Linked DNA regions of Homo sapiens: regions 1, 3 and 4 are each linked to region 2. Evidence: fine-mapped expression QTL. A gene starts in region 2. Each other region holds a variant in brackets. All regions are shown on one strand. Distances are from middle to middle.

What was found.
Region 1: its variant is fine-mapped to the expression of TRPA1 in monocytes after Pam3CSK4 (Quach 2016, PIP 0.95).
Region 3: its variant is fine-mapped to the expression of TRPA1 in prefrontal cortex (CommonMind, PIP 0.95).
Region 4: its variant is fine-mapped to the expression of TRPA1 in monocytes after Pam3CSK4 (Quach 2016, PIP 0.95).

The regions. Positions count from the first base shown.
Region 1 is chr8:72,009,380-72,017,535 of GRCh38, reverse strand. The region is part of intron 4 of MSC-AS1 (MSC antisense RNA 1); the gene reads right to left. Among named protein-coding and RNA genes, the nearest start is that of TRPA1, 62 kb to the left of the region's middle. The variant C/T (reference allele first, on the strand shown) is at 3,314.
Region 2 is chr8:72,071,944-72,079,943 of GRCh38, reverse strand. TRPA1 (transient receptor potential cation channel subfamily A member 1) reads left to right here and starts at 4,360. Exons shown (of 27, transcript NM_007332.3): 1 at 4,360-4,645. The coding sequence starts at 4,535. RefSeq lists an enhancer at 3,984-4,555.
Region 3 is chr8:71,853,274-71,861,387 of GRCh38, reverse strand. The region is part of intron 2 of MSC-AS1 (MSC antisense RNA 1); the gene reads right to left. Among named protein-coding and RNA genes, the nearest start is that of MSC, 13 kb to the right of the region's middle. The variant AT/T (reference allele first, on the strand shown) is at 4,096.
Region 4 is chr8:71,825,026-71,833,181 of GRCh38, reverse strand. No RefSeq gene overlaps it. Among named protein-coding and RNA genes, the nearest start is that of MSC-AS1, 14 kb to the left of the region's middle. RefSeq lists enhancers at 1-10, 1,686-1,865, 1,442-2,641, 5,816-5,875. The variant A/T (reference allele first, on the strand shown) is at 3,738.

The DNA of each region.
Region 1 (8,156 bases), 62 kb after region 2:
TCTGAAGGAACCAAAACTGTCTAAGGCCAGGGGAAGTGGCTCATGTCTATGATCCCAACACTTTGGGAGACCACGGTGGGAGGATTGCTTGAGTCCTGGGGTTCGAGACCAGTCTGGGCAATACAGTGAGACCCCATATCTACAAAAATTTTAAAAATAGCCTGTCATGGTGGCAGGCACCTGTAGTCCCAGCTACTCAACAGGCTGAAATAGGAGGATCACTTGAACTCAGCGGGGTCAAGGCTTCAGTGAGCCGTTATTGCACCACTGCACTCCAGCCTGGACAACAGAGCAAGTCCCTGTCTCAAAAATAAAAAAGAAAAAGAAAAAAAACTGTCTAAAGAATTCATAATCGAAATAATCCAGAAGTTGAGGTTCAAGACTGCAGGTATCTGTACTTTCAGGATACCACAGGCAGACACAACATCTTTCATAATCCGATAAACCTCCAAGCATCAAGTTTTCTGTGATGTTGTATGGTGTCCACAGTCCTTGAGATACAGGTTAGGTAGTGCAAATAACTAAAACCAGTAAGCCAGACTGCAGTCTTCAGCAAGGGACTTAAAGTCTCTTCTACTGCAGCAGTCTCTTCTACCCCAGCAGTTGATCAGCAAGCATCTTCATGACCCAGATGGTTGCCTTTCAAATTCTGAGTGTGGTAAAAGAAACCAGAAAACTCTTGGAGAGCTGTAATACTGAATTGTAAACATGTGTGCATTTATCACCATCCTGTATCACTTTGAAAACTTTCCCAATTATAAATATGCTAAAATCACCCAAATTTAAATAAGATGGAGGATTTATTAAATCAAATAGTCTTTTTACTTGTCGCAGGGCAAATGCTGAAAGTGGGACTCACCCCAGGAGGCCACGTGGGTTTTTGGCTTTCTGCAGGAAAAAATTCAAGAGCAAGCCAATAGAGTAAAGTGAAAGCAAGTTTATTAAAAAGTAAAGGAATAAAAGAGTGGTTACTCTATAGGCAGTGCAGCCCTAAGGGCTGCTGATTGGCTATTTTTATGGTTATTTCTTGATCATATGATAAATAAGGGGTGGATTATTCATGAGTTTCCTGAGAAAGGAGCAGGGGATTCCCAGAACTGAGGGCTCCTCCCACTGAAAGACCATATAGGTTAACTTCCAGATGTTACCATGGCATTTGTAAACTGTTGTGACACCAGTGGGCTCTTCCTTTAGTATGCTAATGTATTATAATTAGCATATAATGAGCAGTGAGGATGACCAGAAGTCACTTTTGTTGCCATCTTGGTTTTGGCAGATTTTGGCTGGCTTCTTTATTGCATCCTGTTTTACCAGCAAGGTCTTTGTGATTCGTATCTTGTGAAACAAGTCCTGCTGAACTCCTGTCTCATTCCCAAGTATAAAACCAAGTTGTGCCCCTAAAACCTCTATAGCATCCCAGTCTAGTGGTCAGCTCTGCCATTCCTTCTCAGTTGATAAGATAATGAAATGGCCCTTCACTCATCCAAATTACTGTAAACTTAACACCCAGTGTGCAGGATCTGACTGTACCTTTTAACATCCTTTGTTTCTATGCTGCCACATGAGTCCTTGAAATGCAGAAGACACAAGCCCATAAAGGACACTGTCAGTAAATAACCAGCCAGAGGATCAGAGATTTTGAAAGTTTCCATCAATTAGTCAATGACAACGCACAGAGCTTTGTCAAACCTTTGAAATATGGAACATGTTAATTTCACAATATGAAGTAAATTGCTTATGGGACATGCTTTTTTTTGCATGCTTTTAAAGTGGTTTCTATATTTTTTAACTGTAAAGAAAAGTCAACAAGAGATAAAGCTAAGTTCTACTAAAACATTTTGAGCTATGTTTTATATTGCCATTTTAAGTCTTAGCACTTAGAATGAGAATCATCAAAATGTGGTGACTCTTTGTTAACAAAGATAATACCACGAGGGCTTCACTGATGTTCTTTGGGAGTGGAGATTCATCAAGTGGAGTATCTCGAAAAAGCTGGATTGCTGCTTTGAGTTTTCCCCAAGAAAATTCAATTATCATATGCCAGTTTGAAAACAGAATAAAGCCCCAAAGTGCCAAGTGGCTTAAAGTAGTCATTGCATTCTATTTTTTGTTAAGTTTTTCTTTAATTGGAAAAGTATTAGGGTCAATAGAGCCAAAAGGTGGGGTCGGCCTTTCAAGTTTGGCACAGTTTTGCTGCTTGGGTACAGTGTTTTTTAAAATTCAGGTTCTTAACTTCTTGGAAAAGATGAATGGGAAAGAAATCAGAATGGGGGTATTTTGATTAAATTATTTAGAATGGCAATTACAAAAATAAGTACGTGTTTTAAATGTTTTCATTTATTGTTATGATTTGCATTTAAATAATTATTTTTGGAAATAATTTTCAAGAAAAAATATATGTATATATACATAAAGTATCAGAAAATAGTAATTAGCTGCAAAATTTAAGCTTACAGGGATGAGTAAATATATTTTTACAGTCTGAAAAGCAACTATTTACAAGTGAATAGTTTATAGCAACTATTTACAAGTGAGTGTACTGAGAGTTATTACTAAAGATAACTTGAAATGTAAAATCTGGCTTTAAAAGTATATTTTAAATGACAGTATAATGTTACACAAATCAGATGGGTAAATAGCAAACTAGGATTATACACTTGAGATATGCTAATATACAGAGTTTCATCTGTTATTAACATTTTTATTAAGACAAGAAGTATTAGATACCTTCTAAACAACGAATGTATCACTGATTTAAAAAAATAACCACTTAGTCACTGAGCAGCTATCATAACCTTCAAAGGAGAAGATTTAAGGCAACACAAACAAAAATATGCTAGCTTAACCTTGCATGTAAATCTTCTGAGAGTCTGCTCTAGACAGAGGTTTCAATTCTGCACCGCCTAATGCGTGTGACCCACAGAATTCCCAGCTGGATTTAGCTTGTCTGCACTGCACTTTTAAAACAAGCTAGAAAAAGGCAAACTCCCTGTTCTTCTGGTGCCATATGTGTATATTTTGGCTATTTCAGGGTATAGGGTAATGGAAAAAAAGCACCCTTTGTTTCATTTTTCATCATAATGAGGCTCCCCATTTGACATGTATGACAATTCTACCAGATAAGACAAGACCAATACAACACAGGGCAGAAACATGAAGAAAAGAATATTTTCTAAGGTCTTCTTGGGCACTACATAGTTGTTTTATGATATTTTAAAATTTATTTTTAACTGATCATGCCCAAAGCCAAACTTTGTTACAAGAGACATCTATAAATATTTACTAATCAACGAATGTTACAACAGACAAGGAA[C/T]GCAATAGCATGAATGTATTACAACACAGGGTACATGGGCAGATGTTTATGGGAAAATGACTAACCCGTTCATAAATTATCACTGTTTACATTTCAAAGCCCAAGCCAGCTGCTTTGTAATGACAGATTATATCTTCAGTATTGATCACTGACAGCTATAAAAAGTCAGGCTGTTTGGCTTTCACAGGTACGAGTGGTGAACAGAAGATGAAATACCTTATCTCATTCATTTTTCTTAGCAAGGACTCAATTCTATTCAAATTAAAGATACTGCTTCATAACATACTTGTAACTAAAAAATATAGGGTGGATAATTTCTTTTTTTAATTGTTCAGAAATCAAGAATATAATTTAAACAAAATAAGTATGTATTAGTACATGGGAAAAAAGATAAAAAGAAACAAAACAGGCAATATAAGAAAAGCTTAAAAAATTAAGTAAAAGAAAACATCAAGACCTACAAAAATGCAAAAACATGAACAAGACTACACAAGTAAAATAAAATCTATGAGTTCTGACAACCAATCTAAACTTCAGTAAAAAACACAATACTTCCTTTCTGGGTTAAAAAAATGTAATCGCTAGAGAATAATCTAAACTAGTATTATAGAAAGATGAACAAATAAATATACAAATATAAAGAGCAGGAGTGACAAAATGAACTTAACCCAAAGAATGCAAGGGAAAAAATATAAAATTAGGCAAAATTATTGCTTTACACGGACAAAGATTTGACCTACAAGGAAGTCATGAGTTATTAACCTTTTTGCTTTCAATAAGTTACCAAAATATGTCGAGTTATAATTAGTAGAAGTGAATCATTGATGAATATATTGTTGGAGAGTCTTATAACACCTCCATTAGCCTAATCCCAGCTCCACACTTAGGAACTGTGTGACCCGCAAAGGTTATTAGAACACTGTTGCCAAGGAACTAGGAGAGAAGAGTCTGCTAGGACAAGGCACCAGCAGAGAACAGCCACTGCTGGAGAAACACAGGTACCCAAGCTAAGTTTCCAGGTCAAAGCAGGGACCAGATGAAGTCAGGAAGATCAGTCTGTAAAAGATACGAGCATTTCTGAAGCCTTTAAATAGCTGAATACATTGTATAGCGTTACTTCCTCACCTGACCCAGGTTAACCTCTTTTTATGTCAGTCCCCATTTTTCCCTTCCAATTTCTAACATTCATATTCCATTTTGAATAATTAAAAAGTTTTTTAAAAAATTAGTAACTCATGGAACTTGAGTTTGTGGATAGAGAAGGAAAACAATAACTAAGTCTGAACCAATAGTGGGCCTTGCCCTCTTCTCCTTGAACCTAGGTTTTAATGACAAAAATGAAGCTATTTTGGTCCACAAAGCAATCAAGGGTCCCTTTAGCCATCTCTGTGTCCCTTCACTAATTAATTCACCACCTAGACTTCAGCTGAAAAGACCTGCCCTACTCCAGCTATTTAGTTTAGCTCTATGTTCCTTCATTACTTGCTCATCATATGGGGGTTTGTCCCTTATTTCCTCACCCCTCTGAACAACATGCTTCTTTAACAGCTGGTCCTGAGGGTCAATAGGGTGTTTTAGTGTTCTCATTTGGTCTTTCAATAAGATGCCATTTCTTCTTGACTCTTGTATGTTCTAGTGCCTTGCTATTCAAGGTGTGGCCTGTGGGCCAGCAGCATGGGCACCCTCTGAGAGCCTGTTAGACATACAAGATCTCTGGCCAGTCATGGTGGTTCACGCCTGTAATCCCAGAGCTTTGGGAGGCCGAAGCAGGTGGATTGCCTTGAGTTGAGGAGTTCAAGATCAGACTGGGCAACAAAGCAAGACCCCGTCTCCACAAAAAAATTAAAAAATTAGCTAGGTGTGGTGGCATGCACCTGTAGTCCCAGCTACCTGGGAGGTTGAGGTGGGATGATCATCTGATCCACGGAGTTTGAGGATCCAGTGAGCTGTGATCATGCCACTGAACCTCAGCCTGGATGACAGAGTGAGACCTTGTTTCAAATAAAAGAAGAAAAAAGAAGATGAAATGTAGGATCTCAGGTCCCTGCCCTAGGCACTCTTCCCTCCTAAATCAGAATTTGCATTTTAGTAAGTTCCCTTGGCAATTCATATGCAAGTTAAGGTCTGAAAAGTACTACCTAATGAAGTTTCACACTAACACTGCTGGATGCTTCATTTAAAATCAATCAAGTGGCCGGCGCAGTGGCTCACGCCTGTAATCCCAGCACTTTGGGAGGCTGAGGCGGGCGGATCACAAGATCAGGAGATCGAGACCATCCTGGCTAACACGGTGAAACCTCATCTCTACTAAAAATACAAAAAATTAGCCGGGCGTGGTAGCAGGCAACTGTAGTCCCAGCTACTCAGGAGGCCGAGGCAGGAGAATGGCGTCAACCCGGGAGGCGGAGCTTGCAGTGAGCTGAGATCAGACCACTGCACTCCAGCCTGGGCAACAGAGCAAGATTCTGTCTAAAAAAAAAAAAAAAAAATCAATCAAGCAAACTATAGTCAAAAATAGAAAATGCTGCATACTTTAACTATCTCCACTACCTCCTGTGTTCACAATGCACATTGGCTTAATAAGGCTCTGAGAAAACTTGTAGTAAGTAAACCAATTTTTTTTTTTTTTACTTCACTATTTTCCAAACTTATATATCCACGGGTCCCCTGGCACATAATAACTATTAACATCCTTCAGGATTTATGATCTATGGAACACATTTTGAGAAACACTGGTGTAATGGACATATTTGATGAAAGGAAGCAAATGACTAATTAGACACTTCTTTGCATTGCAGTTTCTTCATCGATGCAATAGAGGTAAAATAGGACCTATCCATCTCAAAGCGTAGCTTTGAGAAGAAAAGGAAGTGGATGTCAAAACCTTTTGAAAATGCAAGTGTTTGGGATACTTTCATTCATTTATTTTTTCACTTAACAAATACTTATGAGTGCTTACTCTGTCCCAGGCCTGTGCCATGTGTGGGGGCTACAGCAGTGAGAAAAGCTCCTGCTTTCACGGAGCCAAAAATCAATCCGAGTGAATTAAGGATTCAGATTTATAGACCACAAATGTAGGCAGTGATTCCCAAGAGGTAAAACATTGCTAAGAGTCCCATCAGTGTTATTTTAATTCAAAATGATTTATTTAACTAGAAGAAGGCCTTCTCAAAACCATAAGGGAGCAGGAGTACCTACTGAGTAATAATAATGTTAAGATTTATACAGAACTTACGGATGTCATCTAACCAACGGTGTGCTGGCAAGCTAGCCCCTGTTGTATAGTATTTGCAAATATCTGTAGTGTAAATATTCTCACCATGGCCAATTAATTTCAAACTACCAATATGATGTCACTGGATGTGAGGATGGGAAGATTGGCAGAATCAGAAAAAAGGTGTACTATTGGTCATTGTGAGCCAGTACAAACCAACTGCAGTACATCATGGCATGGACCATTCTAAACATTTCACATAAAATAAATCATAACTACCCTATAAGAGAGTAACTAGCATCTTCCCTATTTTATAGATGAGGAAATTGAAGCTCAAAAAGATTACATAACTCTTCCAAACCAAGCAACTAGGAAAGGAGGTGATATGGTTTGGCTGTGTCCCCACCCACATCTCATCTTGAATCCCCACATGTTGTGGGTGGAAGGGACCCAGTGGGAGATAGTTGAATCATGGGGGCAGTTTTCCACATACTGTTCTCATGGTAGTGAATAAGTCTCACAAGATCTGATGGTTTCATAAGGGGAAATCCATTTTGCTTGGCTCTCATACTTTCTGTCTGCTGCCATCCACGTAAGATGTGACTTGCTCCTTCTTGCCTTCCACCATGATTGTGAGGCTTCCCCAGTGAAGTGGAACTGTAAGTCCAATTAAAACCCTTTATTTTGTAAATTACCCAGTCTTGGGTATGGCTTCATCAACAGCATGAAAACAGACTAATACAGGAGGCTAGCATTTGAACTTAGAGACATATGACTCTAGAGACCTATCCTCAAACACTATGGCCCAGTACTTACTAAGCTTGCCACTGGCAAGCTGTGAGGTAATCCCAAAGGTTAGTGTCAGCCAAATCCACCTCATTCACTTATTCATTCAATAAGCAACCAAGAATACTCAAGGATAGTGAATATGCTTTGGATGAGATGCTTACAATTGCTTCACTGGGGTGAAAATATTCTATTTGGACAGTAAAATAAACTCAGTATTTGGATTTGGCTCACACACTTCTCTGTGACAGAGCTTCATTTTCATAGGACAGCCACAACAAAATTCCCTTATTTTGGCATTCCAGAGAAACTGACATTTGGCCACACTGCTAAAATTGATAGACTGAGAAATTATGACAGAAGTTCAGATGGGTACATGGATATGTGTATGTAGTTTCTGCTGTCTGAATGGTGTGAAAATTGCCCTAGATTAAGCTAAGGTTATTCTAGTCAGCCTTTAATTGGCTAAGATTGTATATTGGTTTGCTAAGGCTAGAAAATAAATAACAGACATTTATTGTCTCAGAGTTCTAGAGGCTTGCCAAGATGTCAGCAGGCTTGATTCCTTCTCAGAGCTGTGAGAGAGAATCTGCTCCAAACCTCGTTCCTAGCTTCTTGTGATTTGCTGGCGATCTTTGCCGTTTCTTTGTTTATAGAGGAATCACCTGGATCCATGCCTTCATCTACACAGCATTCTGTGTGTGTGTGTTTGTGTGTGTGTGTGTGTGTCCCTGTGCGTGTGTCTGCCTTTGTACCCCAATTTCCCCTTTTTATAAGAAGAGCAGTCATATTGGATTAGAGACCACTTTAATGACCTCATCTTAACTGTTAATAATTACATCT
Region 2 (8,000 bases):
TTAAGAAAATCATTTCATTTAAAATAGCTTAAAATTAATAAAATCCTTAGGAATACATTTAACCAAAAATATGCATGAACTGTACATAGAAAACTACAAAGCACTGCTGAGAGAATCAAGACAGATATATATAAACTGAAAATATACCATGTTTATGGATCAGAAGACTCAATATTTTAAACATGGCCCTTCCCACCAAATCAATCTATAGACTAAATGCAACAGGCATACCCAGAAACAATGCTTCATCAGCCATCAAGGCATCCTTCCATCTAGTCAAGTTGACACCTAATATTAACCATCATACTACCCATCTGACAAGAGATTAATAACCTGAATATATAAGTCAAGACCATGTGGTATTGGCTTAAATATAGAGATATTAATCAATGGAAGAAGATAGGGGTCTAGAAACAAACTCTTACATTTGTAGTCAATTGATTTTTGACAATGGTTTGAAGGCAGTTCTATGAGGGATGTATAGTTTTTTTAACAACTAGTAACAGTTGTATATCCATATGCAATAAAAATGAACTTAGACCTCTACCCCACAACCCGAACAAAAAATTAACTCAAAATTGATCTAGTTAAGAGCTGACACTTCTAGAAGAAAATACTGAAGAGAAGCTTTTTAATTTTGAATTGGCAAAAGTTTCTATGGCACCCAAAACACAATATAGGAAATTAACAAATTAGACTTTTATCAAAATTAAAAGTTTTGCTTTTCAAAAGGCACTATTAAGAAAATAAAGAGAAATAACAGCTTCTGAAAAAACTTTGCAAATTATTTATCTGTTTAAAGAGTTATATTTAGAATAAAGAACTCTTACAATTTAATAGTAAGAAGACAACGCAATTTAAAAAGAGGCAAAAGAATTTAATAAATATTTCATCAAGAAAATATATGAGTGAATAATAAGACATGCTAATATGGACAATATCATTAGCCATTAGGGAAATACTAATTAGAGACTCAATGGTATATACCATTAGAATGATCATAATAAAAAAAGATTGACAATACTAAGTTTTGTGAGGCTATGGAGTAAGTAGAATCCTCATACACTGCTGGAGGCCATATAAAATGGTACATCCACTTTGGAAGGTAATTAGGCATTTTCATACAAAGCTAAACACATACTTATCACATTACTCAGCAAATCCACTACTAGGTATCTCTCTAAACAAGAGAAATAAAAATGTATGTCCACAGATTTGTATGAAAATGTTCAGAGCAGCATTATTTATAATAGACCCAAACTGGAAATAATTCAAATGTCTACCAACTGATAAATAGGTAAAGAAAACATGGTATACCCATACAATGGAATACTATTGATCAATAAAAAGGAAGAAACTACTGATATATAGTACAATGTGGGTTAATCTCAAGTGTATTATACTAAGCAAAAGAAGCCAGATACTAAATATTACATAGTGTATGACTCCATGTATCTGAAATTTCTAGAGAAGGCTAAACTATAGAGATAGAAAGTGTGCTCCAAAGACAGATTGAAGGTTGCTTAGGGGTCTGGGTTGGGGAGGGATTTACTGCATCTGGGTCTAAGGAAACTTTTTGGATTGATGGAGATATTCTAAAACTGGATTGTGGAGATAGTTGTATACTTGTATAAATTTACTACAAGTCATCAAACTGTGCACTTTCCATGGGTGCATTTTATGTTTTGTTTCATAAAAGATGCTATTTTCCTTAGCATGTATATTGGGCCCCTTTTCATTAATAACATATCTGGATTAGTGACTTTAAAAATAAATATTTTTATAATTAATTTATAAACAAAACATTTTTAAATTTAAGGAACAAAATAATTAAGGAGAATTTTGGTAATTTAGATTTTTTTCATAAAATGTTATTGAGCAATATGTGCATATAACTATATTTTCCTTGATAATTTAAATAAAATTATTTATTATTATTACTTTTCATTTTCTTGAATAAGGTCCTGTGTAATGTCAAATTGTAATTTGATAATAAAAATTACCTTCAGAAAATTTCTAGGAAGGTTTCTTTTCTCTAATAAGTATCATTTTAAGAGTATAACTGATATAAAAAGCTTGCACATTACTGCTATTCATCAATAAACTTCAAATGAAATAAGATCTTGATTGTAAATAGCTAGATACCATCTTGTTCCTGTTTACATTTTGCATTTTAAGACCAAGATTTGCAATTAATCTTGCAATTAGAGGAAGTTGCCCTGCCTGCCTATGAAAAAGATATTTTTGATGGGTAGGAAATAATTTAATGATTAAGAAGAAACAGTCATGGGAATTCCTGAGAGGTCTTAGGAAGACACTGCCTGAAAAATGCCTAAAAGGAACAAGACCCCCATAATATTTTTTAAAAATTAAACTATCTTTTAATCTATTTGCTTTTATAAGCAGAAAGCAGGAAAAAAATCATATCTATAATATTAACCAACTGTATTTTTCAGTGTTAAAGACAGAGAAGACAAATTAAAAAGAATACATGCTTTGGAGAATGTCAGTGGGGTAGAGAAGCAAGAATGCAGACTCCAGGGGATATTACAAAGGAGGGGTGCTGTTGGCCTGGAGCCACCCTTCTCCCAGAATTCCCCTCAACCATCCATTGCTGGAGTTCCCTGCACTGGCCCACGCTGCCCCCCCCCCCACCCCTGTCACCCCCTGTCTCTCGGGGCCAACAGGGCCATCTGATGCTTGCTGCCATGACATGCCCACTGCCCCAGCTTCCAAAATGATCACTTCGAACATCCTCTTTATTCAGTTTTTGCCTTAGTGACCCTTTCCAGCTAAGTGTTGTGAGAAAAGCAATCGATCAAAATAATCAATGATAAAAAATAAAAAGTCTTAATATTCCTATGAGGCATTTCCATTTTAAAACATTAAACTGGTATATGGAAAATATCAGGTAGGCAGCAATGGCTCAATGAGAGTTATTCTTTTTACCCAACCCTGGGATTCTTTTCTTTATTGGTTTCTCCAAATGCATTACCTCCTTCAACTAAATCATAGCAAGTTGTGCAACTGATTCTTATCTTGCATACCCTGAACACAGATGCTGATGAGAAAAGAGTGCAAAGGTGAAGTTGAACACCTGTATCCTCCAGCAAGCCATACTCATGGACTCATGATGTGGTTAAGTTCAATATTATCCTTCCAAGGAATTCCACTCCAGGGGTGGAATTGATGGCAACCTGCCATATCCATTGGAAGATTTAGGGGGACCTTTCATGGTTCCTCAATATCATCATGTCCACTCTGCCTAGCCCTAAGCTCAGCCCACCACAGCCCCTAGGTCAGAGAGTCCACAAACCGTTGCTGAGTGCACCTATGCCAGTTCCTGGATCCACGGGGGTCTTGAGTTAAGTGCTGGAGATGAGCAGGTGAATACGACAATCCAGGGCCTTCAGGAAGCACCGTCTGTCAAAGCAAAAGACTGTCAAAGCTACATTCTGTCCTGTGCAAGGTATAATCAGCCTTAGAAAGGTTTCTTGCGTTCTAGCCTTGTAAACCTGAACTTACGGCAACAGTTCCCTTGTCTGTACCAGACAGTTCCCTTGTCTGTACGTAAAAGTAGAACCAGCCTCTTCGATTGAGACACTTCGATTGACACTTAATGAAGAGCAGTCCTATAAATATAAGTCTCTCAAATGAAGCTGGGGGCAAACAAACTTGCACCAGTCAGCAGTGGCTTACGTTTAACCTCACCTTTTTATTAACCACCCTTAAACACCAAAGTGTGAGGGGGATCACTGTTATTATCCACAGGAAATGAGACCTGATATTCACAGGGACTTAATCTAGTCCCTCAAACCAGTGCTAGGATGTAGCTATTGTCCCAAACGTTTGGAATGAGAAGTTTTGTTAAAAACGTTATTTCCAAATCAAAGAGGCCGCCAGAAGAAGGTGCACGTGGTGGGAAACACAGGTCTGTAGGATTTTAGTTAGAAAAAACTCCTGAAAACTAAAAATCTTTCCAATATACCCAGTCATTCCCTCTTCCTCTCTCTTTACACCCCCCACCCTCCACCCAACACACACACACACACACACACACACACACACACACACACACACACACTCACATGCAAGGTTGGGGGGCAGGGCAAGGGGCCTCTTAGTTTATTATAACAAATTCTCTGCAATCCACCCCGACCTGACACGCTTGACTCCGTCAGTGCGCTGCTGCAGCTGCAGGACAGCGGGACGGGCGAGTCACTTTGTCCCTGAAGGGGCGAGTCCAAGGCAGACGCGGCGCCGCCGCCCTCTTTGCGAAGGAGCTCCGCGTTTCTACCTCCTCTCCGCGCCCCGCCTGCTTCCTGCACTACAAAAGTAGCGCGGGCCTGAGAACTCCTTCCAGAAGTTCTCCAGGGCTTCCGCAGAGCGACTTTTTCGCTGCCTGTGAGCTGCAGCGCGGGAGAGCTCGGGCTCGCGCGGACCCCAGCGCCTGGCAGGCTGACAGCGCTCTCTCGCCCCAGGTGCCCGCGCGCGTGGTGAGCAGCTGCACCAGGTGGCGTCCGGGGTGGGGTCAATGAAGCGCAGCCTGAGGAAGATGTGGCGCCCTGGAGAAAAGAAGGAGCCCCAGGGCGTTGTCTATGAGGATGTGCCGGACGACACGGAGGATTTCAAGGAATCGCTTAAGGTACTCTGGGGGCTCGCGGGTCTGGAGGGGTTCCGACGTGCGGGCGGGGGTCGGCTGGAGGTTTCCTTGGGGGCAGCCCTTGGTTTGGAGAAAGCGTGGGGGTTGCAAGCTTTGGGGTGTGTGCACAATCCAAGAGGTGACCCTACTAATGACGCGCCCACACAGCGCCTGCTTTATCTATTTTGTTTGCTTGTTTGTCCAACCGAATTCTTGCTCCTGGACGGGCAACTGCAGTCCAGGGAAACCTACTCAAAAAGTATCTGTATCATCTGGCACAAGATCGGGCAGCTGCCTAAAATCAGGACAATTTGGAATGTGTGCCGTTTCACTTGGACCTTTCCGTAGATTTTGTTTAGAACCAAATAGCCGAATGACTGTATCTGGTAGTCGTTGGATAACTATTTAAGAGTTCTGGGGGTTGAGAAGCCTTCTGGTCTAACAGAGTGAAACAGATAAACCAATTGTCTGCACTTAGAGCGTTGCAGAAAATGTCCCCAATAAAACGGAGGCAGGAGTGGCAAATTCCTTCTCCAGGGGTAGGAGCTTCAGGAAACGCTGTGGGGGAGGTGACCTTTTGAAGATGGGTGAGTGACCTGAGGCTCTAGGATGGGCACTTCTATTACTTATGCAGTTATCGGACCTAAAGGCAGCACTAGCTACTACCTGATGGCTTAGTCTAAGGGATAGAGGCTGTTGGGTGCTCAGAGCCCACCACTGGATTTCATCAGATTGTCAGCAGGAGAAAGGGGCTCTTTTAAAATGTTGAGACATCATTAAAAAGGTCTCTCCAAACCCTCATCACAAATCTCTTTCGACAGAGGGACCATGTTAACAGTTTCTTAAGAATTTTCCAGGTTAAAAAAAATGCTTACACAAAAACACACATGCTAATAGATCTTGTTTTATTTGCAAAGTTAAGAACTCACAGATTTCCACTCTGATTTACTCACAAAATGTATTTTTGAATACATTTCAAATTGGCACTTGTAGATTTACCTCACTCTTTTTACCAGCTTCATAATATTCCACTGTATGACTAGATCATGATTTATTTAACCAGTGTTGCACTGATGGACACTTAAGCTGTTTTGTGTTTGTTTTGTTTTGCTGTTACACATGTGACAGAGTATGTCTGTGAGTTTAGATGTAGCTTCTCTGTCTGTCTGTCCCTTGGTACCTTTATGGATATGTCTGTATGTCAAAGTCCTAGCAGGGTCAAGAGGTATGTACAGCTTTAATTTTGGTAGAAATTGACAAATTGCTCTCTAAGCAGGTTGCAGGAATTGGCACTATTGCCAATTGTGTGTGTGAGTCAGGCATGTATAGTTAATCACACACACCAAGTAGCCAGGCCTCCCAAGGTGAGTCTGTTGACATGTCCGGTTTGGCCACAGACATTTTTTGTCCTTCTTAATGTTAGCATGATAACTGTGGTCTTTTGGCTTACTCCAGAGAACTGAGTCATAAATAGATTTCAACCACTGGAATAGTATCTTTACAATTAATATGGTACAGGAAGAAATTTTAAATTTCTAAAATCACCCATGTGGTTTTATTTTCTAGCGATATTTGCCGAAGGATTTCTTAGCAGCGAGTCTCAAAATTATTTGTCTTCGTGTTTCTAATAGTCTTTATTTAGATTTATCATCTACGTAGAGCAACTTATGTTTTTTAAGCCTTTTAGAAGCTACATAGAGTTTGTAGATTGAAGGATTATATCTTTTATTTCATTAACTGTAGTAGTTCCATATCATTTTGTAAAAATCTCTTGTTGAACCCATGACAAAGAAACATATATAACACTATGAAGGGTTTTTTAACCTCTAGAGGGTTTTTGGTTGTTTCCTAATTTAAAAGAAAAGCTGTATAACATATTTTCTCCAGCACATACACAGTATCTCAGGAACACTAACAAAACTGAAGGATCACAGAAAACTTACAAGATGAGAAATGTGGAAAAAGAACCATTGGACTGATGCTTTTAGCCTTTTCCAATTATTTTCTTTCAAGATAGTGAATAGTTTAGCATTTGACTTTCTATTTTTTATCTCTCACCTTAGTTTCCAACCTTTTGGCCACATTGCTACTTATATGTATTTCATTAAAGCAACCTAAAACAGATGTATTTGATATATCTGTTTTAAAGGGTTTAGTTAGAATTAGCTTATCTAAAAGTGATCTAGTCTATTATGTTCTGAATCTAATCACATAGTTCAGATTCCAAAAGAATCTGAAGTGACCCTGTGACAACATGAAACTACATTAAATGAATATATATTTTGTCTAAATGACATCCTTGGCTTACTTTCAGAACTTTAAAAAATCTTTTCAAAGCCTGACAACGTCAGGTACTGATTGAGATGATCTAGTACGTCTGATATGCTCATGTAAAGTATTTAGATGCTGTTTTGTTATTGTGAATTCAATAGTGCCTTGTGAGCATCTGAACCTAGTACTCCCTCTAAAGAGTGTGGAACTGGGTTTGTGTTGACAGCACATCGCTGAACAGACATCCCAAACTGCTCTTTCCGGCACTAGGGAGTGGGCAGCATAATCCCTTTATTACGCAAAGAGCATATCAAATTCAAGTACCAAAATGCTTCCAAATAGATTTAGGCCAACACTTTCTTTGATAGGATGAGACATGGAAAAAGATCCTATTTCTGCAAGAAGCCCATTTTAAATTTATTACTGAATATGTGTAAATTTGGAAGTGGTTGGATGCTCATTGTCATATCCTGTAGTCACTAAAGTTATATGTAGCTTATATGGAATTTAATTTTTTTTAGTTAAAAAGTAACACATCTCAAGAGACTACCATAGAAGAGTGACTTGTTAGGTACTATTCTGTAATAACAAAAGCAAAAACTAAAGTTCAAAAGTTTAAGAAATTAAGTTTTATTATTCCAACCTGACATTTGCTGAATAAATCCTAATATTCTAAATCCTTTCTTAGTTATATTAAGGATACATTAAATACCTTAATACTTCATTTTCACTGATAGCTTTTCTTTTCAGTAGTGAGAAATGCTCTAGTTTTCTTCAAAATGACAAACTGGAGTTTGGACATATATTATCATGTGGCATATGAGACTAGTTATGGTCAATGGTAGAATTGAAGCAAGTATCTGAATCATTTGGGGAAGATTTCTGCATTTCCTTTACAATGAGGAAGAACGGCCTTTATTTCTAAGCATATATGAATGAGTTCATGATAAAAAAATTTATTTCATGTGTTGATCAATCTTGGGGCATTTTCTCAAACCTTCTTTGTGTCCGTAAACATTTTGTGTATTTCAAGAAAAATATTTACCTCATATAAGCATGATAGATAGTTTTGGATAATAATAAGTTC
Region 3 (8,114 bases), 220 kb after region 2:
AAACCAGTTCCTGTGGTCAGAGAAATGAAGTGTTCTGAATGGCCAGGTCTTAGTCAGCAGACTTCCCAACAGCCTTGGGAGAGGGCCAGCCCCACTTTTGCCACGTGGAATGAGAGTGGCTGCTCCCAGATGGAAGCCTAGTACTGTTCCCATCGTAATAAGTGGAGGGTAAATGCTACAAAGAAGAAAACAAGCCTTCAAAGGGGAGGAAGAAAGAAATACATATTCCTTATTTATACAACATAAACCATGCTTATGACCTGATATTATCTTGATTATCTAAATCAGTGGTGTAATTTAATATTTATAGGAAATTACATTAAACAAATTTATAATCTTCCTCTCCTCTACATCCATTCTGCTCTCCCCTCCCCTGTTTAAGAGCAAACTCCCTTGGGTCCCCAGAGGACCCAGTGTTCTTATGCTGCTTTCTGGCAGCCCAGGGCCCCCACCAAAGTCCTACCCACCTGGTGTGGGTTCTATTTTCTGAACCAATTCCTCTTTCTGAGAATTAGTCAATTTCTGAGCTAGTGACCAACCTGCCCTTGGCCCCTTCTTACTATAAAATGAGGGGAATATTTAAGTGACCTTTAAGGCACCTTCTATAACCAATTTCTTTGGACTTTTCACTGAGACAAACCCTATAAAGCAAACCCTATTTGCATACTTATTTGCATACCTCATTCCAATGGTTGTGTGGGAGGAGGACTCTTGCTCTTCTTCACACATTCATACATAGAGGGGGAAGCTCCCAATCTCTTCCAGAAAGCAATGAAGTCATCACTCCAGTCTCTTTCTTCTGCTTGTTCCTCCTCACAAGAAAGGGAGGTGCTAATCTGTTTGGTAAGAGCTTCACTTCCACTAGAGCCTATTTCCCTACTTGATGGGATTACAGGGTACTGCTCACTGGTAGCACAAAATATAATTCTTTTTGATGGTCTTGTGCTCATGCAGTAAGATCCCTCTCCTTCCCTGGTGCACACCTTTGCATTTCATGTCTCTGAGTACTAACCCACCTTGGGAGGGCTTGCTCAGCTCAGTGGGGAGGTATGCTGTTCTCTCTGCATTCCAGTTCCTCCTGCCTTTCAGAAGCAGTCCTTGAACTTGCCATAGGTGGACTGGAAGGCTGCACAGAACCCTTGACTTACTTTGAAAATACAGAGGTTTTTCTCTGGACTAGGGGGAAGGGGACCTACTTTTGGACTTAGATCTAAGTCACATTCTCTAATCTACTTTTCTCGGATCCCTGAATTCTATTGACTACTTCTTTGCCTAAAAAGATGATAATTTGAGCCCCCATTTGACTAGTACTTCTCTCTGTAGGTTAGAACCTAGCAAGGAGGAGAGGTAAGTTTTCACTCTTATCTACCTCTAATAGTCATTTCCAAATTACTTTCACATGCATTCTTATCACTTCATTCTCAAAACCACCTTGTGATAACTTCCAGGGCAGGAAATACTAATTCAATTAAATTCAAGGAAATAGAGATACAGAGGTCAAGAGACTTGTCCATGATCTAGTTAGTTGCAGAACAGGACTAGATCAGCATACACTGAGAATAGAATCTCAAAATGAGAGACACACTAACATTCTACAGCTTCAAAATATAACCAGAGAAATAATTCCTCCAGCACTTATTTGCACTCCTCTGGCAAGAAATTGTTGTGAAAACTTAAGACTTCTAATCTTTATGTAGTATACAGAGTATAGACAAAAAAGAAAACCGCAGTTAACAAAGTATCGTAATGTCAGATGCATGATTTAATTTCTAACCTGCTGTGACACTGTAAACTTAATGATCACAAAAATTACACATTATCTTTGTGTAGCTCTGAGTAAATATTGTGGTGGTATATGCTCTGGTGAATATGTATAACTGTGTTGCTTCTGTTGTTTTTATGGACCTCATTGTACAGGATATTGGATATCACTAGAGATAATGTAAGCCTTAAAGCCTGTCAAATTGAGATAGTCTGTGCACCTGCATCCAGTCGTCCACCCCTGCAGCAGTTCTGGGCAGCTGTCAGTGTTCCCACCCTCCCCCACATAACTGGGAGTATCAAGCTGCATATAGAATATTTTGGCTTATATACAAAGATGAAATAAGTAAATAGGCAAACCTTGGATATCAATCTTGGCAATCCAATACTAAACCAGGATATTCTGAACTCTACAAAGTAAATTGATAAAATAATTTTGAAAATTATATCTTGCACATATTTGATATAGAGGTAAACTCTTTCAAAAGGAAAATTTCCCCACAATCTTAATATCTCAAAGTAGTGTTGGAACATGTCTCTGTATGGTGAGCAAGGCCAATGAAGAAGAGAAAGAAATAACAGATGGCCATTCTCTAGTTGCCCTATCTAAGACTAGGAAGTGGTGTGAGCTAAAAAAAAACTATCTTCACCTAACATTTCTTATTTTTAGGTAGTTTTTTCATTTCACTGTGTGTGAAAGAGAGAAAAAGAGAGTGAGAGTTTGAAAGAAGGGGAGAGAGAAACAATATTGATTTTTGTATGACATCTGGATCACTTTGTCCTGTGTTTATGAATGAAGTAAGGGACAGTAAAAATAAAGCTAATTCTATAGTCGGTTCACAAGCAGGATATAGGAGGAATGGGAGAGTTCTGAAATTCTGGGAGAATGGCAGCAGAAATTTAATCATATGCCTAGTCCATACTAGGTACTCACTATGTCCTTGCTTAAAGAGTTAAATTAACTGGGTTCATCACAGAATTCATTGACAGAATATATGCTAATTGACTACTTCTACTTGGTCGTAGTGGGAGGCTTGTGTTTTTTATGTGAAAGTACTAAAAGGATAAGAATAAAGAAACTAAATACATTCTATTTATTTTTATTGATCTAAAAACTGTTTTACAAAAGGATTAGAAGATATCAACCTGTCATCATCCTAGATACAAACAGTTAAACCCACCCCTCCCTCTAATTAGCTTTTCCTTTTGCATACAGAAGGAAAGCCTTTCAGACACAGCTGTTCTTAGGCCAGATTCTCTCAAGGGAATGACTCAGCCTCTGTCATGGAAAGACTAGTCAGAAACAAGCTATTGAGGAAGATGGAGAGACAAGAATATAAATGCACAGGAGTGTGGTTTACATAGGAGAATGTGGTAGACAAGCAATGTGAAGCTAATCTTGCTGAATCCCAGTGGTTCCTCTGCTCTGCCTCATTCTTGTGCCAGTGAAAATTGGAAACTTCAGAAAAGACTAAATATGGAGCTTCTTAACATATGTGAAACTTCTTAACATTCTCCTTCCTACACGTAGAGAACTGGTACTTAATTTACTGCTCTTTTAATTGGACCTCATGATATATAAAATATACATCAAGATTCAGTGGAAGACAAGGTGATGTCCGCAAAAATGACAGACTTGCGAAAATAATCTTCCCCATGAAAGCAATGAGAAAACTCACAAAATTATCAGAATCAACATTTTCAGAATGCTAGAAATTAGCCAAAGTTCTGCAGCAATCTGGGTATTTTTTTTTTGAAGAAAAACAGCTGAATATCAGTAAGAACAGTAAGCTTTGCTGTGTTTTAACTTGTCCTACTCCCATTCCCTTCTTCTCTTCCAGCTCCATAGTAGCCTTGAAAACTGACAGCTTACAATCACAGTGGAAGCCATAAATTAAGCAGACCTTTCAGGCATTGGAGGAACACTCTACCCCACAGCAGTAGGATATACATTTTTCTCAAGTATACACAGAACATTCCCTAGGATAGGCCCTATTCTAGGCCATAAAACAAATCTCAGTAAATTTAAAAGGACTGAAATAATACAAAATACTTATCCAGTAAGAGAAATACATTTGGGGAATTCACAAATTTATGGAAATTAAACAACACAATCATTTAAAAACCCATGGGTCAGTAAAGAAATCACAAAGAAAATTAGAAAATACCTTTATGGAAGAAAATGAAAACATGGCAAACAAAAAACCTAAGTAATACAAGTAATACATTTCTTATGGGGAAATCGCAATACCAACAATGAGATAGAAAACCTAAAAAGAAAACAAAGAGAAATTCTGGAGCTAAAAGGTATAATAACTAAAGTAAAAAAAAAAA[AT/T]TCACTAGAGGGATTCAAAGGCAGATTTGAGCAGGCAGAAAAAAAAATCAGTGAAGATAGGACAATGGAAATCAACTTCATCTGAGGAACAAAAGAAAAAAAGTTTAAACAGGGCACAGTGGCTCATGTCTGTAATCCCAGCACTTCAAAACAGGAAGAGCCCTTGAGATCAGGAGTTTGAGATCAGCCTGAGCAGCTTAGTGAGACCCTACCTCTATAGATAATTTTAAAAATTAGCTGAACATGGTGGCACATGCCTGTAGTCCTAGCTACTAGGGAGGCTGAAGTGGGAGAACTGCTTGATCCCAGGAGTTTGAGGCTGTTGTAAGGTATAATCATGCCACAGCACTCCAGCCTAGGAGGCGGAGTGAAACTGTCTCTTAAAAAGAAAAAGAAAAAAGAATGCTTAAAGAAAAGTGAGCAGAGCCTAAGGGATCTGGGGGACAACATCAAACAGAATACATGTATTCTGGGATTTCTATAAGGAGAATGGAGAATGGGAAAGAGAGAATATTTATAGAAATAATGGCTGAAAAGTTCCCATATGGGATGAAATAAATGAATACAAACATCTAAAAAACTCAACAAACTCCAAGTAAGATGAACTAAAAGAGATCCACACCAAGACACATAATAATACAACTTTTGAGAGAAAGACGAGAGAATCCTGAAAGCAGCAAGACAGAAGGATCTCATCATTTACAAAGGATCCTCAATAAAACCACCTGCATATTTCCCATCAGAAACTTTAAAGGCCAGAAGGCAGTGGGGCAATATATTCAAAGTGCTGAGAGAAAAAAATTTTCAACCAATAATCCTATTTCAGCACACTATCCTTCAAAATTAAGTAAGAAATTAAGACATCCTTATATTAACAAAAACTGAGGGAGTATTTTAGTGCATTTTCTGCTGCTCATTACAGAATACCTGAAACTGGGTAATTTGTGAAGAAAAGGAATTTATTTCTTATAGTTATGAAGGCTGAGATGTCCAGAGTCAAGGGGCCACATCTGGTGAGAGCCTTCTTGCTAATGGGAACTCTGAAGAATCTTGAGGCCTGGAATCACATAGTGATGGGGCTGAACCTTGCTCAGGTCTCTCTTCCTCTTCTTACAAAGCCACCAGTTCCATGCCCATTAACCCATTATCCCATTCATCTATTAATCCATGAATAGATTAATCCATTCATGAAAGCTGTGCTTTCAAGATCCAATTACCTCTTAAAGGCCCTTTCAATACTGCCACATTGTGGATTAAGTTTGTGACATATACAATTTGGAGGAAACATTCAACAAATAATAAATGACATTTATAACTCAACAACAACAGGACAAAAAATTTAATTTAAAAATGAAAAATATCTAAATAGACTTTTCTGCAAAGAAGATAGATAAATATACAACAAGTACATTGAAAGATGCTGAACTTCATTAGCTGTTAGGGAAATGCAAATCAAAACCACTATAAGATATAACTTTCACACCCAGTACGATGATTATAATCAAAACAAAGAACAATAACAAGTATTGGTAAGGATGTGGAGAGACTACATTGCTGCTGAGAATGTAAAATGGTATAGCCACTTTGGAAAATAGTCTGATAGATTATCAAATAGTTAACCATAGAGTTACTATACGACCCAGCATTTCCACTATTAGGTATATACCCAAGACAGTTGAAAACATATGTTCACAATAAACTTGTACATGAATATTCATAGCAGCATTATTCATAATAGCCAAAGATTGGACATATCCCAGGTGCCCATAAATTGATAAATAAATAATTACAATTTGGTGTGTGTATATATATATATCATTATATGTATGTTATATATAATTATATATAATGAAATATTAATTCAGTCACATAAAATTGAAATACAAAAGCAAGCTAAAATATGAATGAACCTTAAAAAACATTATGCTTAGTAAAAGAAACAAGGCATTAAAAGTCTGTGGCTTATTATATAGAAAGTTTTTCAATGGAATATTATTATATATGTAGTATGTCCAGAACAGATGAATCTACAAAGACAGATAAACTAGTGGTTGCCAGGGGATCTGGAAGAGGGAGAAACGGGAAATGACTGCTAATGGTTATGGGGTTTTGTTTGGGGATGATACAAATGTTTAGGAATTACAGAGTGGTGATGGTTGCACAACCTTTTTGAATATACTTAGAAATCACTTAACTGCACATCTTTAAAGTATGAACTTTGTGGTATGAGAATTATATTTCAATTAAAAGAAAGGTTCAATGATTATCAAAGCAAAAATACTATAATTAAAATTAGTATTTTTCAACCAAGTAGTATAAACATTAGAATTAAATATAAAAAGTTAATGTGTTTTGTGTCACAAGTAAGTATAAAAGTTACTTGTAACATTTTCCTCCCTGGTCAAGCTTATTTTTCTATGACTTCTAAAACGAATGCTAAATATCAAGAACTAGAAGATTTACTATCACTTTAAATACTCTGGAGTTAAGCACAGAGTGCCTGGCATTGTAGCTTAGCCTGCTTATTAAATTCTCTAGTATTTCACATGCATTGTCCAAGAACATTGTATTAGTAAGGATACTCTAGAGAAACACAATGAATAAGGGGTGTGTGTGTGTGTGTGTGTGTGTCAGAGAGGAGAGGACAGAGAGAGACTTATTTTAAGGAATTGGCTCACACGATTGTGGAAGATGGCAAGTCTAAACTCTGGAGGGTAGCCTGGCAGGATGGAGACCAGAGAAGAGCTGCGTTCTAGTCTGAAAGCAGTCTGCTGGCAAAATGCCCTCTTCTTCCTAGAAGGTGAGTCATTTTCTATTACGGCCTTCATCTGATTGGATGAGACCCACTCATATTACGGCAGGCAATCTTCTTTACTCCAAGTCTAGTGATTTAAATTTATATCTCATACAAAAAAAAAAAAAAACTCCACAGAAAAATCTAGAATACTGTTTGTGCAACTATCTGGGTACAATGGCCTAGCCAAGGTGAGACATAAAATTAACCATAATGGACATGATATAGCAACAAGAGCACTAGACTCTCATTCTAGACATCTGAGTTCCTCTTCAATTATCTTTGTATTCTTCAGCAAGGAACTTCATCTCTCTTAACTCCAATATCTTTATCTGTAAAATATGGGGGATATTAATGTTTAAAATGAGAATATAAGGGTATGGGGGTGCAATCTGACATACTCTGCTTTTTCTCCCTGTTAAACTACATGTTAATGAGTTCCCTATAGCAAAAATGAAGAAATCATAAGTTTATTATTGATTTAAAATACCCTAAATTTGCTGTGTTCCAAATGCCTATGGAATATGTTGAAAGAAATCTGCTAATATCTCCAGAGAGCCTAAGTTTTGAAAAATAGTTTGCATGTATGTCTGTGTGTATGCATGCATTCATGTATTTTGTCGTTAAGTCCATTTTACATAGATAACGCACAACTGAAAGATCTGAGAAATATATAGATCACTCCATATTATATTCTGTCAGTGGCACCCCCAACATTTCTGCAATATAGTGATACTGCAACTTTGCAAATCCTTCCCTCTCCACCTACCCCAAAGAGTTAAAAGTATGGCTTCATTTTGCCTCCCTCCTGCATACCATGGGTCCCCAACTGTAGAATCTTCATCTAAATCTCCAAGAGTATTTCCCCTGAACTCCAAGTTCCTAAATTGCATCTCTACCTCATCAAAACTTAATGGTCCCATAAATAGTTCATTCTTGCAAGTTCTTGCTATTGAAAATATAAACAGGTTAATTTGTTAAGATTCAGCTATTTCTAGCTGAAAACCACTCCATGTGAATCACTGTGCTAGATAACTTCACATTTGTTAATGGGTATAAGTGCTCATCAGTCAATGTCATCAAAGCCCTTAACACTGTTTTGAAATACATTTCCTTACCCCTACTTAGACTCTTTTTATATTCTCCAGAATGGTTATTCCCCACATTTCCCATTTCTGTTGATTCTAGTAACTCATGTCTACCCACCTATTCTATGTAGACAAC
Region 4 (8,156 bases), 250 kb after region 2:
TGGTTGCTAGACTAACAACAGCCTGTGACAAAGGGAGGGAAATTTAAGACCCTATGACCAGAACTGTTTACTAGCAGGTCCAGGATTAGAATTCACAGACTCTGAGTTTCCCCTTGGCATCCAGCCCACCCAATCTGAAGGACACCAGCAGATAAGAATTTGGCACCATGACAGCTATTTCTCTGCAGCTGTTTTCCATGCACACTGGCCAAGTGCCCCGGAGCCCGCGTGGGGTTGCAAGTGGGGCGTTCTCAGAGCCTGACTTGTTGGGTGGCCTTGGGCAGTCTCTCCCTCTTCCAACTATGATTTCTCACCTAAAATGAGGGGTCTGGGCTGGATGGGGCCTTAACTGCACCATAGTTTTAAATGAATGCCCTGCTTACTGTGGGTCTTCAGAATAGCACTGATTATGTCTCCCTTTATTGCTAGTACATCACAATACGGGGAGGCTGAAAGCTTGAGAAAATGAACAAAGTCAACCTACACTTAAATGTTTTATGAGTTTGGTGCAAAAGTTACTGAGGTTTTTGCCATTACTTTCAATGGCAAAAACCTCAATTACTTTTGCACCAACCTAACAGATGAAACTCAAGCCATTCAGGTGTCTTTTGACTTGTTCTGCAGAAGATCTGTAATATCTCTACGTGATTTCACTGTTGATGATAAACTTTGCCACAGACTCTTCATTTCTGTGATAAGTATTTAATCTTACAAAGGTAGAAAACAACTTCTCCACATTATATGGAAACCAAATAAGCACAGAAATGATGGTACTTAAAACTGTTCTAGTCTCAAAACAAACTTTCATTAGTGTTTAAAAACCTGGCCAGGCACGGTGGCTCAAGCCTGTAATCCCAGCACTTTGGGAGGCCGAGGTGGGTGGATCATGAGGTCAGGAGATCGAAACCATCCTGGCTAACACGGTGAAACTCCGTCTCTACTAAAAATACACAAAAATTAGCCAGGCATGGTGGCGGGCACCTGTAGTCCCAGCTACTCGGGAGACTGAGGCAGGAGAACGGCGTGAACCCAGGAGGCGGAGCTTGCAGTGAGACGAGATCGTGCCACTGCACTCCAGCCTGGGCGACAGAAAGAGACTGTCTGAAAAAAAAACCCAAACACAAGATCTGTTCAGACCTTTTAAAAAGATTCTATGATTGAGTTTGGTTTGCTCCAGAGTAAAAATTATAGTGGAAAAACATCAGATCCAAATAAAAGAATCTTCAGGAAAAAGTATAATATATAAACAACTACTGGTTTTCTTCAAACTCCTGACAACCTAGGAGATGCTGAAATTTGACCTATCGTTTCAAGAATCTAGTGAGTTTTCCCTTTTTAGGTTAGGACATCTCCCTGTGACAATTTTCACCTTTCTCCAAGACTTCTCAAAATATACTGTTGTTGTTTCTATACTCGGACCTTTAAACCTGTCCCATATCCCGATATGTGATTCACCTGAGCACAGACTCATAGAAAGCTACTTTGTCTGGCAATGTGCAGAATAGATTGAACAGAGCACAAGTTGGACAGTCCAGGCAAAAGAAACTGAGGCCTAGGCTGAGACGATGGTGGTGGGAATACCAGGGATAGAGCCAAGAGACTTTTGACTGCTAGAATCAAATTAACTGGGTTATAGACTGGATGTGTGTGATGAAAGCCAGGGTAAAAGCCACAATGACTACAAGGTTTCTAATTCGGGCCAGACAGTGAATAGCAAAGTCATCATGAGTCATGATTTATCACTAAAATTTAAAAGGGCAAGTTTGAAACAGTACAGAATTGAGAAACTTTGCCATTCATTTGGGAACTCTACCATCCATTGGCCCATACAGATTCTTATCAAATTTGGTCTTACTCTGGGGACTTAGATTCTTTCAGAGGGGGTAAAATCATAACTGAAAGCTTAAAGAGAGAAGGGGTTTGTGCAGCTCAGAGACACAAAGCTTGGAAACAGGGCCCTTGCCTTGATCGCATGTGAGCATGCCTTTTTTCTTTCATTGGATTCTAAATATCTTCAGAGCAGGAATCATCATTTTTCATTTTGTGTCTTATGAAATTACAACCTCCATCTGTCTGGTACAAAGCAGATGATCAATAAATATTTAATAAATTTCTCTTGATAGAAAATAGTTATTGCTACTCTTTAGTTTAAATTCCTTCTCACTTGTAAAACGAGGGTGATTTGATTTGGGAAAGTCCATACCCTGGAACCACCCGAGATATGTAGTCATCACAGACAACTAAGAAAGTATGTCTAATTAGTCACTACCATTTGACACTACTATTTCTGCTGTACATAATCTGATGGTGCTAGGGAGCCCTCAGACAGAAAAAGAAGAGTATTGACTGAGTTCAGTAAAGTACTTTAAAATGTAAAGCTTTAAAATTGGAAGAGGCAAATTCATACTGTAAACACGCTAAGCACCATGCTATACGCTTTACAGATATCAGCCCTTTAATGCCTCTGATCAGGCCCATGAATAGGCCTGTGATAGTCTTGATTTATGGGTGGGAAAACAGGCTCTCAAAGCTTCAATAACCTTCCAAGGGCCACACAGGGAATAACTGGTGGAATCAGAGTTTAAATCTATTTCTCTCTAGCTAAGAATCTGAACCCAAAACCATTCCCTGAGCCTCCCCAAAAGTTGTCTGCTGGGGTGAAAGGAAGCTGGTGGGAAGATGGTGCCCACCGATGAGACTAACTGAACTTTAGGAGTTAACTCGGAACAACGGATGAGCCATAGAGCTATACCTCCTTCCGAGGGCTTGACACGGGACGAAAGCGCAGAAAGGAGTCAAGGCTGTCTGCTTCCTTGGCGGTGCCCACCAATGCAACCCAGGGAGTGGCACTTGTCTATAAACATATTTGTTTCTTTTTGGGTTTGCTTTCCTCTTTATTTTATAATGAAGATGATTTGAAAAACACCCAATTTATATGTGCTGAACTAAAAAGAAAATAGATCTATTCTCACTTAGGATTTTTAGCTCACAAAATTACATACTCCTGGAGAGCCCAGCAGTGGAGGCAGGGAGTGGCCAATCTGAAGATGAACAAAGAACTGCTCCTGGGAGAAACTGAGGTAGGGGAGCCAAGAAATGCCATGACCGAGGAGAAGCCCCAGTCTGCCTAGAAGAGCTGATCATTTTTGTTTGACCTTAATAGATACTTGCTTAAGTGAGTTATAGGAACAAACAATTTCCCACCAACAACAAGTGATCCACTTTTTTCCATCTTCACCAAAGACAGAAAAAGAGAAAACATGTGTGAATTGAAACATATAAGAAGTACAGTAGATTTAATGAAATTGCCAGAGAGAGGTTTTCTAACCGTCTAGGATTTGTGATGTAGAATTTGCGCAGTTAGGGAAGAATCTGTGGTACAGATTTCGTAGAATCATAAAGCCACAAAACTTTAGAGCTAGAAGGTATCTCATAAGTAATCTACTTTGGTTTATCATGGCATTCTAAAGATAATAAAAAACAAAGACTATATGGTTACTGTAATTACCTAACCGGGACTGTTGTGCAACAATGTAAAATTATGGCCCCAAATTATGCAATACCTAGGAAAATTTTATGAAATAAACAGGATAAGAAACTATAATTATAGCAATGACAATAAAAATCAAAATAATCTAATCATTTTAAAGATAAGGAAAATGAAACTGGATTTTTGGAAACTGGCTTCTCATCTGTCTTGGATTAGAGAAAGATGCTGCTTGAAAGTTTGGCTTTTT[A/T]AAAAAAAATCCCCTTGTCATTTAAGGTCATTTCTGGTCTGTCTTTTACTGGCTGACTTCTCTTTGTCTTCCTCCCCTAAACCCTTCCCACTCCCTCTGCCTTAACCTGCAGAATTAATTCTACCTCATCTATATTTGTGCAATACTTTACACACATCTTCATTTTTAAAGAAAAGTTATTAAAAGTACTATATGCCCCAAAATGCAAGAATGGTGTGGCATAAGAAAATCAGTCAATGTAATACACATTATAGAATGAAGGGGAAAACTCACACAATCATCTTCATCGACATAGAAAAGCATTTAACAAAATCCCACACTCTTTCACGATAAAAAACAAAACAAAACAAAACAGAAAACCAGGAGAAGGCAACTTCCCCAGCACCATAAGACGCCTTTATGCTAACATCAAACCCAATATGAAAGACTGAAAGCTTTCCCCCATAAGGTCAGGAACAAGACAAGGATGCCTGTTTTCACCATGACTATTCAACACTGCACTGGAAGTTCTCACCATAAAAAGGAAGGAAACACTGACACGTGCTACAACATGGATGAACCTTGAAAATATTATGCTAAGTGAAAGCAGGTAGACACACAAGGTCACACATTGTATGATTCCATTTATATAAAATATTCAGAATAGATCAATCCTTTGGGACAAAAACAGATTAGTTGTTGCCAGTTCAAGGAGGGAACATAGAAACTGTTTAATAGCTAAGGGGTTTTAGTTTGGAATGGTGACAATATTTTGAAACTTATAGAAATGGTGATTTCGTGACATTGGGAATATGCTAAATGCCAGTAAATTGTCTACTTTAAAATGGCAATTTTTTTTTAGCATTCCACAGTGTGATCCTTTACTACAGCAAGGTGGCTGATTATCAAAAACTGAGAAAAGCAAGAGTGAATACGTTAAAAAGGTTTGTTGCAGATACAAGAAGGTAAGCGGAGGCAAAGATAACTCAGTGCTAGAGGTCTGGATGTGGCTCCTCAAGGAGCTCCCTGCAGCCCGGCTCCTCCAGGATGGCGCTCTGCACACAACCCGGGCAGCATCTGCTTCCCCGGGAAAAGTTACCCATTGACATCAGCTGTGTTTAAGAGCTAATTTTTATGTTAGGTGAATTTCATGATGTAACCAAGTTCAAAAAAATGAGTCCTTTGAAACCCAAATTCAAGGGCGGTAAATATATGTCAATGGGTATTTCCCCACTATATTAAGTACTTACACGCTCATTGTTTCTGCTGTTTGGGGACCTCTCTGCAGCTCCAGCACTTTCCACAGGATTCAATAGGAAAAATAATTGAGCGCCACGCAGCCGGTCCCAGTAATAAAAAGACGTCATTAGCGCGCCATCTCGTGGTAAATATATAAGTTGCAGCAAACCCTCAGGCTGCAGATTTTTTTTTTTTTTTTTTTTTTTTTTTTTTTTTTTTTTTTGTTAAGACAGGGTTAAGCCTATGTTGCCCAGGCTGGAGTACAGTGGCACTATTATGGCTCACTGCATCCTTGACTTCCTGGGCTCCAGCGATCCTCCCACCTCAGCCTCCTGAGTAGCTGGGACAACAGGCATGAGCCACCACGCTAGTTGTTTATTTTTATTTTTTGTAGAGACAAGCTTCTCACTATATTGCTCAGGCTGGTCTCAAACTCCTGGACTCAAGTGATTTGCCTTCCTCGGCCTCCCAAAGTGCTGGGATTGCAGGCGTGAGGCACGGCACCCGACTAGGGAGCAGAGATGAACCCTGAGGTTACTTTCTGTCCTTTCCTCAAGCCAGAGTGGTTTAGGTCACTGGTCATGAATACAAGGATCGGGGTTGTACGCCTTCTCAAAGACCTCATGTTCCTTAACATCAAAATGCTCTGACTTATTCCAGATTCCTTAGGAAACAGCCTGAAGGAAAGCCATGAGTGCAGACTCCCTATGGAACCTGGTCACAGCTTCAGGACATCCTTGGGGAGGTGTCAGCAATCCCCCTGTACCAATGGTGATGGTGTGTAGGGGGGGTCCAGGGAACCTTTTCCCCTACAACCTTCAAGAAAGCAGCTGGTGGCAGGAGTCTTTCTAGAGCAAATACTGTGCAAGAGGGAATCCAAGAGGGCCGATAAGCTGGATTTCTGCACATGTGTCACTGTGTCAGGGGCATCCCCTGCACGGCCACCACTTCTGCCTGTGGGCCATCTGTGGCTTCTCAGGTCCCTTGTAGTAACTGCAACAGCGCTACTGTCATCACAGCTCTTCCAGAAGACAGCTCTGGGTGGTTCCCCACTACTGTATTTGTGAGATCCAAAGGTGTAGCTCTCTGTTGCCTTGTGGATCCGTTATATTTGCAGGCAGTGTTATAGTTCTGAGGGGATTTTGGAAGTGGTGGTTACTTCAACGAAGAGCTTGAGATGAGCATCTCATCTGAGCTTCACAAGTCCTCTGCGAGATAAATAAGGAAGATTATTATAATTCTCTCCATTTCATGCAAGTGTTAAACCCAGGCCTTGTCTTTGTTTAAGGATAGATATAGGCCAGGCACAGTGGCTCACGCTTGTAATCCCAGCACTTTGGGAGGCCGAGGCAGGTGGATCACGAGGTCAGGAGTTCGAGGCCAGCCTGGCCAATATGGTGAAACCACATTTCTACTAAAAATACAAAAATGAGTGGAGCCTGGTGGTGGGTGCCTGAATCCCAGCCACTCGAGAGGCTGAGGCAGGAGAATCGTTTGAACCTGGGTGGAGGGGCTTGCAGTGAGCCAAGATCGCCCCATTGTTCTCCAGCCTGGACGATAGGGTGAGACTCGGTCTCAAAAAAAAAAAAAAAAAAAAAAGCTATAAAGTAGCAGATTCACTTGCTGTGTCTTTCCAGAAATACAAGAACCATTCTACTTCTTCCCATGGAAAGCCTGCATTTCACACGTGTAATGATTCAAATCTGTGTTTTAAGATGAGAATAGGCAAAACAGTATCGTGCTCTGCTCACCTTCTCCACCTTCACTCTTCACTCAAGCCAAATTATGCTATTATTGATGGAAACACAAACAAAGACAATATATTTTTTAAATTATACTTTAAGTTTTAGGGTACATGTGCACAACGTGCAGGTTTGTTACATATGTATACATGTGCCATGTTGGTGTGCTGCACCCATTAACTCGTCATTTAACATTAGGTATATCTCCTAATGCTATCCCTCCCCCCTCCTCCCACCCCACAACAGGCCTCAGTGTGTGACGCTCCCCTACCTGTGTCCATGTGTTCTCATTGTTCAGTTCCCATCTATGAGTGAGAACATGTGGTGTTTGGTTTTTTCTCCTTGAGACAGTTTGCTGAGAATGATGGTTTGCAGCTTCATCCATGTCCCTACAAAGGACATGAACTCATCCTTTTTTATGGCTGCATAGTATTCCATGGTGTATATGTGCCACATTTTCTTAATCCAGTATAACATTGTTGGACATTGGGTTGGTTCCAAGTCTTTGCTATTGTGAATAGTGCCACAATAAACATACGTGTGCATGTGTCTTTATAGCAGCATGATTTATAATCCTTTGGGTATACGCCCAATAATGGATGGCTGGGTCAAATGGTATTTCTACTTCTAGATCCCTGAGGAATCGCCACACTGATTTCCACAATGGTTGAACTAGTTTACAGTCTCACCAACAGTGTAAAAGTGTTCCTATTTCTCCACATCCTCTCCAGCACCTGTTGTTTCCTGACTTTTTAATGATCGCCATTCTAACTGGTGTGAGATGGTATCTCATTGTGGTTTTGATGTGCATTTCTCTGATGGCCAGTGATGATGAGCATTTTTTCATGTGTCTTTTGGCTGCATAAATGTCTTCTTTTGAGAAGTGTCTGTTCATATCCTTCACCCACTTTTTGATGGGGTTGTTTGTTTTTTTCTTGTAAATGTGTTTGAGTTCATTGTGGATTCTGGATAATAGACCTTTGTCAGATGAGTAGATTGCAAAAATTTTCTCCCGTTCTGTAGGTTGCCTGTTCACTCTGATGGTAGTTTCTTTTGCTGTGCAGAAGCTCTTTAGTTTAATTAGATCCCATTTGTGAATTTTGGCTTTTGTTGCCATTGCTTTTGGCATTTTAGTCATGAAGTCCTCGCCCATGCCTATGTCCTGAATGGTATTGCCTAGGTTTGTTTCTAGGGTTTTTATGGTTTTAGGTCTAACATTTAAGTCTTTAATCCATCTTGAATTAATTTTTGTATAAGGTGTAAGGAAGGGATCCAGTTTCAGCTTTCTACATATGGCTAGCCAGTTTTCCCAGCACCATTTATTAAATAGGGAATCCTTTCCCCATTGCTTGTTTTTGTCAGGGTTGTCAAAGATCAGATGGTTGTAGATATGCGGCATTATTTCTGAGGGCTCTGTTCTGTTCCATTGGTCTATATCTCTGTTTTGGTACCAGTACCA